2 separate regions of the Homo sapiens genome follow, and region 2 is reported to be linked to region 1. The links are microRNA targets in miRTarBase. Many come from high-throughput screens and were not tested one by one. Region 1 holds a microRNA gene; the other region holds the end of a gene's coding sequence.

Evidence for each region. Region 1 holds the annotated microRNA hsa-miR-5000-3p (UCAGGACACUUCUGAACUUGGA, at 1,483-1,504, opposite strand). A microRNA usually pairs through its seed, bases 2 to 8, with sites in the 3' UTR of a target mRNA and lowers its output. Matches are read on the target gene's strand: a 7mer-m8 pairs with bases 2 to 8, a 7mer-A1 pairs with bases 2 to 7 and ends in A, and an 8mer does both.
Region 2: the mRNA of ARHGAP22 is a reported target of hsa-miR-5000-3p. The part of its 3' UTR that is shown has no 7-base or 8-base seed match.

What each region holds. Positions count from the first base shown.
Region 1 is chr2:75,087,001-75,092,376 of GRCh38, reverse strand. It overlaps MIR5000 (microRNA 5000), which reads right to left and starts at 1,565; the gene lies at 1,463-1,565. The region is part of intron 2 of TACR1 (tachykinin receptor 1); the gene reads left to right.
Region 2 is chr10:48,441,792-48,447,167 of GRCh38, forward strand. It overlaps ARHGAP22 (Rho GTPase activating protein 22), which reads right to left. Exons shown (of 10, transcript NM_021226.4): 10 at 4,245-4,828. The coding sequence ends at 4,600. Among named protein-coding and RNA genes, the nearest start is that of ARHGAP22-IT1, 67 kb to the right of the region's middle. RefSeq lists a silencer at 2,535-2,829 and an enhancer at 3,377-4,278.

The sequences.
Region 1 (5,376 bases):
GGGACTTGGTTTTCTGAGCACCACAATGCATTAAGGGTCATGAGTTTGGAAATTAAAGCTGGTGGTGTTGCATTCTGCATAATCAAGCAGGGAGGTTTTTAAAATTGGGGGAGGGATGGGAGGTAGGAACCAGTGAGGCTTAGCACCGTGTGAGGAAAGGCAACTCAGAATGTGAATATTAAGTTGTTTGCTACAGTGTATGTGATATAAACCCTCTCTTACGTCACCCTACAAGATCATCACCCTCTGCTGCTCACTAGTGTGTGTATGTGCTTTTGAGAGAACTAAATAGCATGCTGAGTTCTGCATTCAGATTTGTTTGAAACAAAAACAAACACCTCACACTGATGTTATGCCCATTTCCTCATATAAAGTTCTCCTCACAATCTTTGGAGATAGATATCGTTGTCCTTATTTAATAGATGAAGACTGTTTGTAAACTGAGGCTTACAGAACTTACATAACCTGTCCACAGCCGTACATTAGTGAGGGGAAGAACTGCTTCTTCCCCATGTGGGCTTCCTTTTGCCCAACTTCCAGCATCAAGGAGCCCCAAGAGTGCACGGCACTGCCCATACAGCAGATAAGTCACAGAGCCAACCAAGAGAATGTGAGTGAATCCCTCTTCTTAAGTTTTGGAACCCACTTCTAGAGTTCACGTCAGGTCATTTGTTGTGCCTAGGTCTGTCAGTCATGGCTAAGAGTGATATGAAAAAGTAGAAGACACAGGACAGATCAGAAAGGAGAAAGGAACACAGGCTGTGACTCAGGGTAGAATCCCAGCCCTGTTGCAATAACAGACTCACTTAAGCAAGTTGGGTTTTATAACAGTTATGAACGTTAGTTTTTCTCATCTTTAAAATGGGTATTATAGTACCTCCCTTATAGGATTATGGAAAAGATTGGAACTGACAAAGTTGAAGGGTCTACCAGGCCCTTGTGAATGAGAAATGTCATGTTATTATTGGTCATGAACCATGCTGTTAAACTGCCTGTAATCTCCTAGAATGTGAAATCTGAGGAGGTCTTGAACATCACCCAATTCAACTCCTTATCTATAAAATGGAGTAAAGGAGATCCAGAATGGTTGAGTAATTTCCCGAGTTCACCATGAGTTATGGTAGAGTTAGGAGCGGAAATTCAGGGGAGATTTTTTTTTTTTTTTTTTTTTTTTTGCACCTACGAGCCCATAAGAAATTGAGGACTGCAGGAAGGAGTTCTGTGAAGCACTATAATGTGTGAGATAAAAAATTTACTCCATGAGCAATCAGAAGGAGGTAGAATTGATGCAAACCGAGCCAAGAATGAAGGTTATATCTTGATTAGAACTTGAAGGAAGAGTAGAATGCTAATGGACAGAGAGTGGCTGCCTTTTCAGATAAGGTGAGAAGTGCTGGAAGCTTAGCTAGGTGGCCCCGTTTCCACAGTGTGACTAAGAACAGACCAGTCTGAGAGATAACAGAAGCAGGGAGACCTGTATGGTCCAAGTTCAGAAGTGTCCTGAGTTATAAGCACAAGTTACTCAGGAACACTTCTGAACTGGGACCACACACTCTACTCTTCAGAGAGGATGACTTTGGGATCATAAGGGATACATTCTTGGTGACACTATGGGTCTGATGGGGAACGGTCACCACTCTTCCTTGAGAAATTTTTGTCCTAATTCTCAAAAGGTGTAAGAGAGCATACAGATTAAAAGAGTGGTGATTGGGGATGGGATAACAACTACTAGCTGACATTTGTTGCTCATTATGTGAGAAACTTGCACTTAGTTTCTTACCTACAGTTTCCAGGCTATAGGTAAATTTAAACATTTTTTGCTTGACAATTGGTTGAGTTTGTCTAAAGACTTGGGATCAATAGAAAGGAATGTTTGGTGCAATAAGAGGTTGTGGAGACCAAAGTTTTGTCATGCAGGTGAAGCTTTTAGCTAGCAGGCTTCAGAGAGAACAGGCTGTGAAATGTTTAAAGTCCGTGTTGATGTTAATGCCCCATACAGGTATGATGAGGCCTGTTCGACCCCACTTCCCTTCATGGCCTGAACCAGTCTTTCAGATTAAATTTTAAGAGCCCTGGCTGAGGAGGAAGTCTGTTTAGATGGTTGGGGGGCCTTAGAATTTTATTTTTGGTTTACAAAGTAAATTATATCATATGTTAGAAAGTGAAAAGTGCTATGGAAAGAAAAGAAAAAGCAGAACAGGATAGGAGGATGGACATTCAGGGGAGGGCACAGCAGGGAACTGCACACCCCAGCAAGATGGTCATGTCATTGAGAAGTGACCTTTGAGCAGACTTGAAGGAGGTGGGGAGTATATTTGTTTTAGCAAATGTATGTGGTAAGTCCTAACACTCTTCTTATTGGCAAAACAATGAAATACAGGCAATTAGTTGAATGGTGATGATGATGATTTTGATGAAGATTAAGATGGTAATGAGCTGCTGGTGCATTTATTTTAGTCTAGGTGGTGCTTTCCAGAAATTTGTTTGTTTGAGATTTGTAAAACCTTTGTAATGTACTATGGTTTGGCTGGGTTGAGAGGACATGGGGTGGTAGTGGTGACAAAGCCAAGACCTTCAAGCCCAGATTCCCCTTCACTGCTCCCAGTGTCTACATTAAGAATTTAAACTCTCTCAGCCTCACTTTCCTCACCTCTCACCTAAGGTACTGACAGCCTCTGCCACCAGCGCACCATGTGACTCAGCAATGTGTCCACATGGCCAAACATCTCATTTCTCTAAAACATGCAGAAGTAAAGTCTTCTACATATGATTTCACTTAATGAAAGGGCTCCACTTATTTTTTTAAAGTTTGAAACCATTGCCTTAGTCTCTAAGGTCTCTTTTAAGTCATCAGATACTTTCAAGCAAGAGTGATGACTCCCGAAAGGGTGCTCTTAACCCGCTCATGTTTAACGTAATCTCAATGGTTTGTCTTTCTGTTTTCAGAGTAAAACCCAGGAGGAGTCCAATGAAAAGTTAAGAGAAAGACATTAGGTCCACACATTTATCAGATCAAGTTTGAGCAGAGTCCTGGAGGAGGTGAGGGCAGGGGCTGCCAGTGGAGGTGGTGAGAAGTGCTATTCTTCTTGGTATATCTTTGAAGGGAGAGCTAGAAGATTTTACCAATGAAAGAAAGTTCTCATTTATGCAAAAGGCAAGTCATTCTGTACCTACTATATAAGGTCATGACAGCTATGATCTCCAGGAGATGAAGAATTCTCTACCAGTGGACTAATTTAGAGCTCTGTACCTGCCTTGCAGCCCTGTGTTCTAGGCCAAAGGGCAGCACATATGGTGAAGTTAATTGAACCTGTGTGATTCAGTTAGGGTGCGTTAAAACTAGAAACCACTATAATCAGATGGAAAAGTGCCTACATGCATCCCAAGAGAGCTTGATGCTCTCTGTGGGAAACTGTCAAACTCACAGGAGGGTGGGGGCAGCATGTGGAAAGGGAAGGAAGACAACCACACGCAGCTAAAGCAGATGAGCTGTGGGGAAGAGGGAGAAGATGTGAAATTAGAGAGAAGGAAATTGCAGGGAGTGAGGAGAATCAACCCAAGCCACGGGAATAAAGAAGGGAAGAATGATTCAAGATTCAGGGGCGAAGGGGATACCATCCCCCTTCCTTGTCACCGATCCGCCTAAACCCCCATCACCCCACACATGGTGATTGTGGTCTAAAGCACAGGGGTCTCCTCCACCTGCTAGAAGGAGGAGAGGACAGAGAAATGCCCCCTGCCATGCAGACAGCACCTGCAGGAAGCCTCCAGCAGTCTGCAGGAGGAACATAACAAACACATTTATACACTCATTCAGTGAATATTTATTGAGTCTCTAACCCTGGGATACAACAGTGAACAAAACAAACATTATCCCTCTAGCTACTTAAAACCAAGTAGTAAGCACATACTTTATATAATTATATAACCATGTTGACTATATATCATTAGCTGTGATAAGCACTTTGATAGAAAAGTTCAGGCCCTCATGACAGCAAATAAAAAGGCTGGAGATTTCAGGAGCTAAGCTTTGAGGAGTTAGCTGCGTGGAGAGGGAAGGAAGGAGGGTGTATTCCAGGCAAAGAGCACTGCAGGGCCAGGACATAAGGGTGGACAGCAGGACCTGATCAAGGACAAGAGCCAGGGCTAGCCAATGTGGCTGGAGCAGGGTGCAGAGGAGAGTGGGCTGAGTGCGGCCACAGAAGGAGCAGGAGCAGGTCAGGCAAAGCATCACTGGCTACATGGATGGTTTGAGTCTTTAACTCAAAAGAAATAGGTTGTAGTTTTCAGCTAACAAGATCCAGCTGCAAGGTAGACGTCAGCTAGAGAAATGAGGACCGAGACATGGGGGGACTACAGATGAGGGAAGTTCATTCCACCACAAAGGAGAGCTTTCCTTAGAAGGATTCCAAAAACAATCCCTTCATGCCTGCCACTGGAGGCTGAGTTCATCATCAGTGAGTAGTTCTTTATGTAATGCTATGTAGCACTTTGCCAAATACCACTAACAGCAAAGAGGCAATGAGACTCCTGAACCTGCTACAGCTGTGACAGATGTTTAAGTCTCAATATCAAAAACATTTCAAATTTTCCAAGGGGATAGACCAGTTATGTCTAAATGACTGGACTTCAGCAGGGGAAAAGTGATTAAGAAGGCAAGGAAGTGAACAGAAACCCAATTATTTACTGTTTCAAATGGCAAGAGGTGAGGGGAGTCACTGACAATGTGGAGATACAGCTGGGGAAATGTTAACTAGCACAACACGGCGTTTAATCACAGATTTCTGCTTAAAGTTGCTTGGGTTGGTGGGGCTTCCTTAGGCAAGGGTTTTAATTAGTTTCAAGTTTACACTTCTACAGCCTTTCTTAATAGTAAGTTCTGTCAAATGTGCATGGTGAATGATGATTGTTGTTTGCAACCATCTATTAATGGTGTCTTCCAAACACTCCAGAGAGAAAAGCACTTTTTGCAAAGGGAGGTTTGCAGAAGTTTATCACTGGTAGTCTTTGGGGAAGAACTACTGGGATATCTTCTACTGGATCTGTTACCAGGTCATCTTACTTCAACATTCTAGACCAGCACTGTCAATATAAATAACATGCAAACTACAAATGCAAGATGCAAGTGGAATTTTTAATTTTCTAGTAGCCACATTTCTTAACGTACAAATGAGTGAAACAAATTTTAAGAGTATATATTGTTGAACCTATATATCCATAGTAGTATCATTTCAACATGTTACCCATATAAAAAGTATGAATGACATATTTTCTATTCTTTGGGTATAGGTGTGAGTGTGGGTGTGTACTTGTCTTCAAAATTCAATGTGTATTTTAAACTTACAGCACAGGTCAATTGGACCAGCCACATTTCAA
Region 2 (5,376 bases), not on the chromosome of region 1:
GGGGTCTACTGGGTCCTGCGGGTCCAGGTGAGTTTTGTCAAGATGGAGAATTTAGGTCACCTCGGACAAGTGTCAATCTGGCTGAGCCATGCCTCTTACTGTTACTTGACAGCATCCTGTGTTCTCATCTTCTCTTGATGCCTCACACTGGGATCCCCTGGATGGAAGAGCCTGTCCTACTGGAGATAATGCCTGGCAAGTAGGTGTTCCATAAATGGTGGGCTGGGTAAGCTAATGACTAGAGCGTATCCTTTACACCATTTCTGTCCTCTGAAAATGCAACATTCATGGCCCTCAAAGTGTGACATGAGTACACTGCATGCAGCGCTGTGATATTATAGTGATGTGAGCATGGGCTCCGGTGCCAAATACCCACATAGCATCCTGCCCTCACTGGCTGCCTCACTCCCTGCAAGTGCCTCAACTCTGGGGCTGTGCTTTGTCATCTGTCCTGTGGGAAGCCTAATGTCACCTGGCAGTGTTGCTGGGAGGATTTGGCGTGTGCATGCAGGGCAGGGGGTGGCAAGTGCTCGGTGAGTGCTGGCTGCCGCCATCATCCTGACTGGTACCAGGCTCGGCTCAGCACCCTGGTGTACAGGTTCGTCAAGTCAAGCATCTGTCTCTCATGTCTCCTGGCATGGCAGCTATGTCTCTAGGCAAACATACCCAGAAGAGTTTGATGTGAACCAAGTGCTGTTGTTTCCCTCGATTTGATGTGTCACAAGGAAAAGATATTCTAGAACCTGAAGCCCACCCCCACCCACCACCAGTGTGCAGCTGAACCAATGAACCCACGTGCTGACCCCGAGGCTCCCCATCCCCATGGCCACTGCCACAGCCACCACCAGGCCTGGGCCCAGAAAAGTGCTCTACTCCTCAGTCCCTTGTCTCCTTTTACCACAGACCCTGCCCCTTGTCTCCTTTTACCACAGTGGACAGACATTTATCAAAAGCTCACTGAAAGAAGGGAAAGAGGAAATAATTATAGAAAAACACGTCTCTACCAGGCATTTTGGGCCAGCTGCTGCTGGTTTACTAAACTGGTGAGCTTTTTAACCAGCTGTGGCCTGAGTGCAGGGGCTTGGGATTTATGAAACCATTGGGTTAAGACCCAATGCCCAGATAGCATAGAGATTTAGCTGTCTTGGAGTGGGGTCATCAAGCCAGCTTGTCACATGCGGCAGGGGCAGGATGCGCATCTGGGCAGGCGGGCTCTGGAGTCTTTGCTTGGAAACTGCTGTGTTCTGCTTGAGAAGCTTTATGGGAATAAAAACGTCTCCTGCACAAAAGCTGGGGGATGCTATGTAAGGTAATCATGTTTGGCATTTTTCAGGACTTCTCAAAGACCGCTGTGCATTCCTATGAACCTGCCTGCAGCTCTCTCCCTGTCATTTGGGTCATTCGCAGCAGTGTACAGACATGCTCAAGAGTTCCCATCTTTCAAAAGCTTTCTCTTTCCCCTTCCATTATCAAAATGGAAGTCAATTCATGTGAGTTAATGTAAAGCTCTCAAATGCTTTCCTATTTCCCTTAGAATAAAAATAACCTCTCACCATGGGCGATAGGCCCTCAGAGTATCTGGCCCCTGCTAGGCTTTTCATGACCCCATCCTACCCTACCCCACTTCTTCACAGACTGCAACACATTGTGAGACCCCTGTGCTCAAGTGTTGCGGGGCTTGCTTTGGGAGACAGAAGTAGTAGCAATGTGGCTGGTAGAAAAGGATGGCAATCCTGGTGCAAGTGGGGGTTCTTGGTGGAGGCAGGAGTAAGGAGACACAGCAGCAGTGTGTGGCAATGTCACAGCTGCTTAGCTAGGAACTCAAGACACCCGTGAGAGAATTACTTAGGATACTGGGAGGGCTCTGCAGGGGCCTGGGGTTCTGCATCAAAAGGAGAAGGAGAGAGTCCGGGAAATGTTGTTACTGACTCCATTTTTACCCACAGACCAGGGAAACATGGATATATGGGTTCCATTCCGAAATTCCTTCAGGAATAAGATTCATTCCTGGTCCATCACTCAAAAGCCAATTAAGACAAGGAATCTTCCTTTTCTTTCTATTTCTGTTTCTCACACACACATACCCATAAAATTGTATTTTAACTTTAAAGAACATGTGCATTCATTTGTTATTCTTTTAACATAAGACAACTCTTTGTTTTTTTAGTGAGACATTCACAATTTCCAGTATTTCTTTAAAGTCAAACACAAGTTTTACGACACTGTTGAAGTATTCTGAGAGCAGAATCCCAGATTCTTCCCATTTCTCGCTATTGCATGTTTCACTCATCCATGCTTAATTTGACAATATTTTTTAGCAACGTGCCTCTACTGAGTCTGTCTAAAGCATTCTAGGGTTTCGATGAATCAATTCCCTACCTTTTCATGTTCATAATTCATGTAATTCATGAGTCTACTTCATATTAAATGATGTAATTACAATAACAAGTACAATGGGAATCTGTCAGTTTGGGACCAGGTTCAGCAAATGTAACTCAATTGAGAGAAGTGGGTAGTGGTGGGGATACTAGAGCCCCCGCGACAGGTCAGCCTCTGTCACTCAGTGTGCCTGACAGTCAAGTCAGATGTTTTACAGATAAGATGCCCAGTGCTGGTTACACAGAGATTGGAGAACAGAACTGAATAATCATGCCAATTCATTTTGAGATAAGAATGCCATTTGCAGATCCTACTTAGCCAACAGGTGGCAGATGTGGCTCAGGCATTCATGAGCTCCTATCCCTACTGGGGACTCAGCAGGAGCCTAAGCCTTTGCCAGGATTAATGGTTGAGACAGACAGACAAGCTTCCTTTCATCATGGGAAACCCATTTCAGTCTCCTCTGCTCCTTTGATAGCCTGGTGGCATTTTCTCTCCAGGTCAAAAATCAGCAGAATTCCATAGCTGTGGCGAGAAAACTCAACAGGGTCATCAGGACGCACTGCTGTTCCCACCCAATTTCTCCAAGCCTCCGTTTCTCCTCTGAATATGGATAATAGGGCCAATTTTCTACTTCACTGCATTGCTGTGAGGACTCAAAGTCACCTCCTATTCTCTTCTCTCTCCTTGAGTAGAGGGGAGGGTAGCATCTCAACACCAGGGAAAAATCCCATCACCCAGACGGCTGGCTCGCGTGTCAGTGGCCGAGCAAAGACAGACGCCACTCTCCCCAGCCCCTCCTGAGCTCCGGCATCCAGACCTTGATGCTGCTGAGGGCCCTGAGCAGGTGCCCGCCTCCTGGTGGACGAGCCCCTGGTAGCTGCCTGGAGACAATGGGTAGCTGGCCACACTGTGGGAGCTGCCCTGCCTGCCTCACCCTGCGGGCCTGCCTTCCTGGCAGGAAGCCAGCATTTCCTGGGAGCACTGAGCCCCTGGCATTTAAAGCATCAGATGTGGGCAACATTTATACCTGACTCTAGATGGAGCTCGTTGGGCCTGAGTGACATTTCTAGAGGCTGTGGTCAGAAACTGGGCGCTCTGGTGACCACTGCTCCCTGAACAAACCCCTGCAGGTTACTGCTCAGGGGCAGCAAGGGGCCAGCCACACATCAGGACACCGTGAGGGGAGCAGGTGAAGACAGTGGTCTGACACTGCTGGTCCCAGAGGCGCTGCTGTGCTGCCTCCTGAAGCACAGTCCAGGAGCTCCAGCTGGGCCTGGCCTGGGTGCCCTGTGGGTGGGAAAGGCTTTCTGGAGGGATTTGCCCTAATGGAGCCTTCAAGTCTGTGGATAAGCCAGAGTAGGGGGGTGAACAGCAGGGAAGCGGGGGCTGGAAGGGAGCTGGGCAGGCGCCCAGAGTGAGGCATAGGCACCTGGAGTACGGTGAACAGACGTTTCCCATGGCCTTGGCTCAGCCCTCCTGTAGAGTGGCCACACTTGCCCACACCTCGCCCAAGCACAGCATCTGTGCTGGGTGCCCACTCAGGCTCTGGCCCTGGAGCAGAGCTAGGGCCATGGTGGAAAGCCCAGGGGACCTCCCAAGACAGAAACTAGCTGCAGAGGTCCAGATGGCTACGGGGCGGGGGGGAGTAAAGAAAGGCATCCCACCTGGAACATGCAGACGAGACAGCTGAAAGCACAAGGCTGTTGCCCCTTGGGGGGCTTCACGTCCCACTTCACAATGCCTGTGCTATTCCACCCAGGGGCATACCTCAGGGGGCTCCTAGCCCTTGGAGAAACAGGAGTGGTCCTGTATTGTGTCCTGTATTGCGAGGCATGAAAAATGAGCCAGGTAACAAGGCACCATGCTTTGTGAGCACATTTAATAAAGAAAGCTGACTGTTCCCGGTGGCTGCCTGGATCCTGGGCGCCCTCCATTTCTGTGGCCATGAAGGATATTTCCTGGGTAAGGGCTAAGCGCTACTCTTGGTACCGTCCCCTTCTGACCCTCACCAGGAACTGCATGGTTGGAGCAGCATCTGATCCCACCTGGAGTGTGTGGGGTCCCAAAAGTCCCCACAGTCCCCACAGAGGTATCAGGATCTCTCTCTCTCCAGCTGGCTCCAGAGCGCCTGGCTGCTCCAGAGATACAGACGCTTCTAACTCCATACAAGGCTGGAGACCAGCAGACGTGGTACAGAAGTGAGCTCTGCCATTCCTTTTACTTTGGGGCCCTGGCACCTTTTGCCCCAACAGTCAAGCTTCCTAGGGTCGAAAAAAACTCCTCCATTTCCCTCTGCAACAGCTGGTTCCTCCTCTCCGCATCCTCCCGCGCCCGTTCAGAGTTCCGCAGCTTTATTTCCAGCATGATGTATTTTTTCTTTTCCTGGTCCAGTTCTTCTTCTAACCGGGACATTCGTTTTCTCAGGTCAGCACTCCCTTCTTCGATTCTGAAAAGTCAAGGAGAGATGCTGTTTGAGACTCTGCGGGCCAGGTTCACTGTCCCATGGGTATACCATGCTTGTGCTCACTGTGGGTTGAGGGGTCAGGCCAAGCCATGGCGGCAGGAGGAAACCCTGGCTCATCTGCTCCTCACAAGAACCCCAGTACTTCACCCATGAGCAAATTGCCCCCTGCCATAGCTCCCCTAGCTCCTCTGGGCCTGTGATCCCGAAATGCCAACACAATGATCCATGCCTTCGGTGCCTCCCTGGGTCCGCATTTGCCCCTCCAGTGCAGTATGGGATCCCTGCCAGCTGGTAGGAACAGTACAGGCCCCTGCATGGGGAGGGTTGGGACTCGGACTGTCCCCTGGCCTTTGCTCCTGTGCTGTGGCCTCCCCTCCCACAGCTCCCTGCAGCTCCCCACACTGTCCCCATGATCCAGCCACACGTGGTGACCCACAGAAGATCCTGTGGGGTAGTCACTTCCCTTCCTGCTCTCCCGTCATGTTCAGCTCAAGCGCCCCCTCCATGATGCTACTTCCTGTGATCCTCCC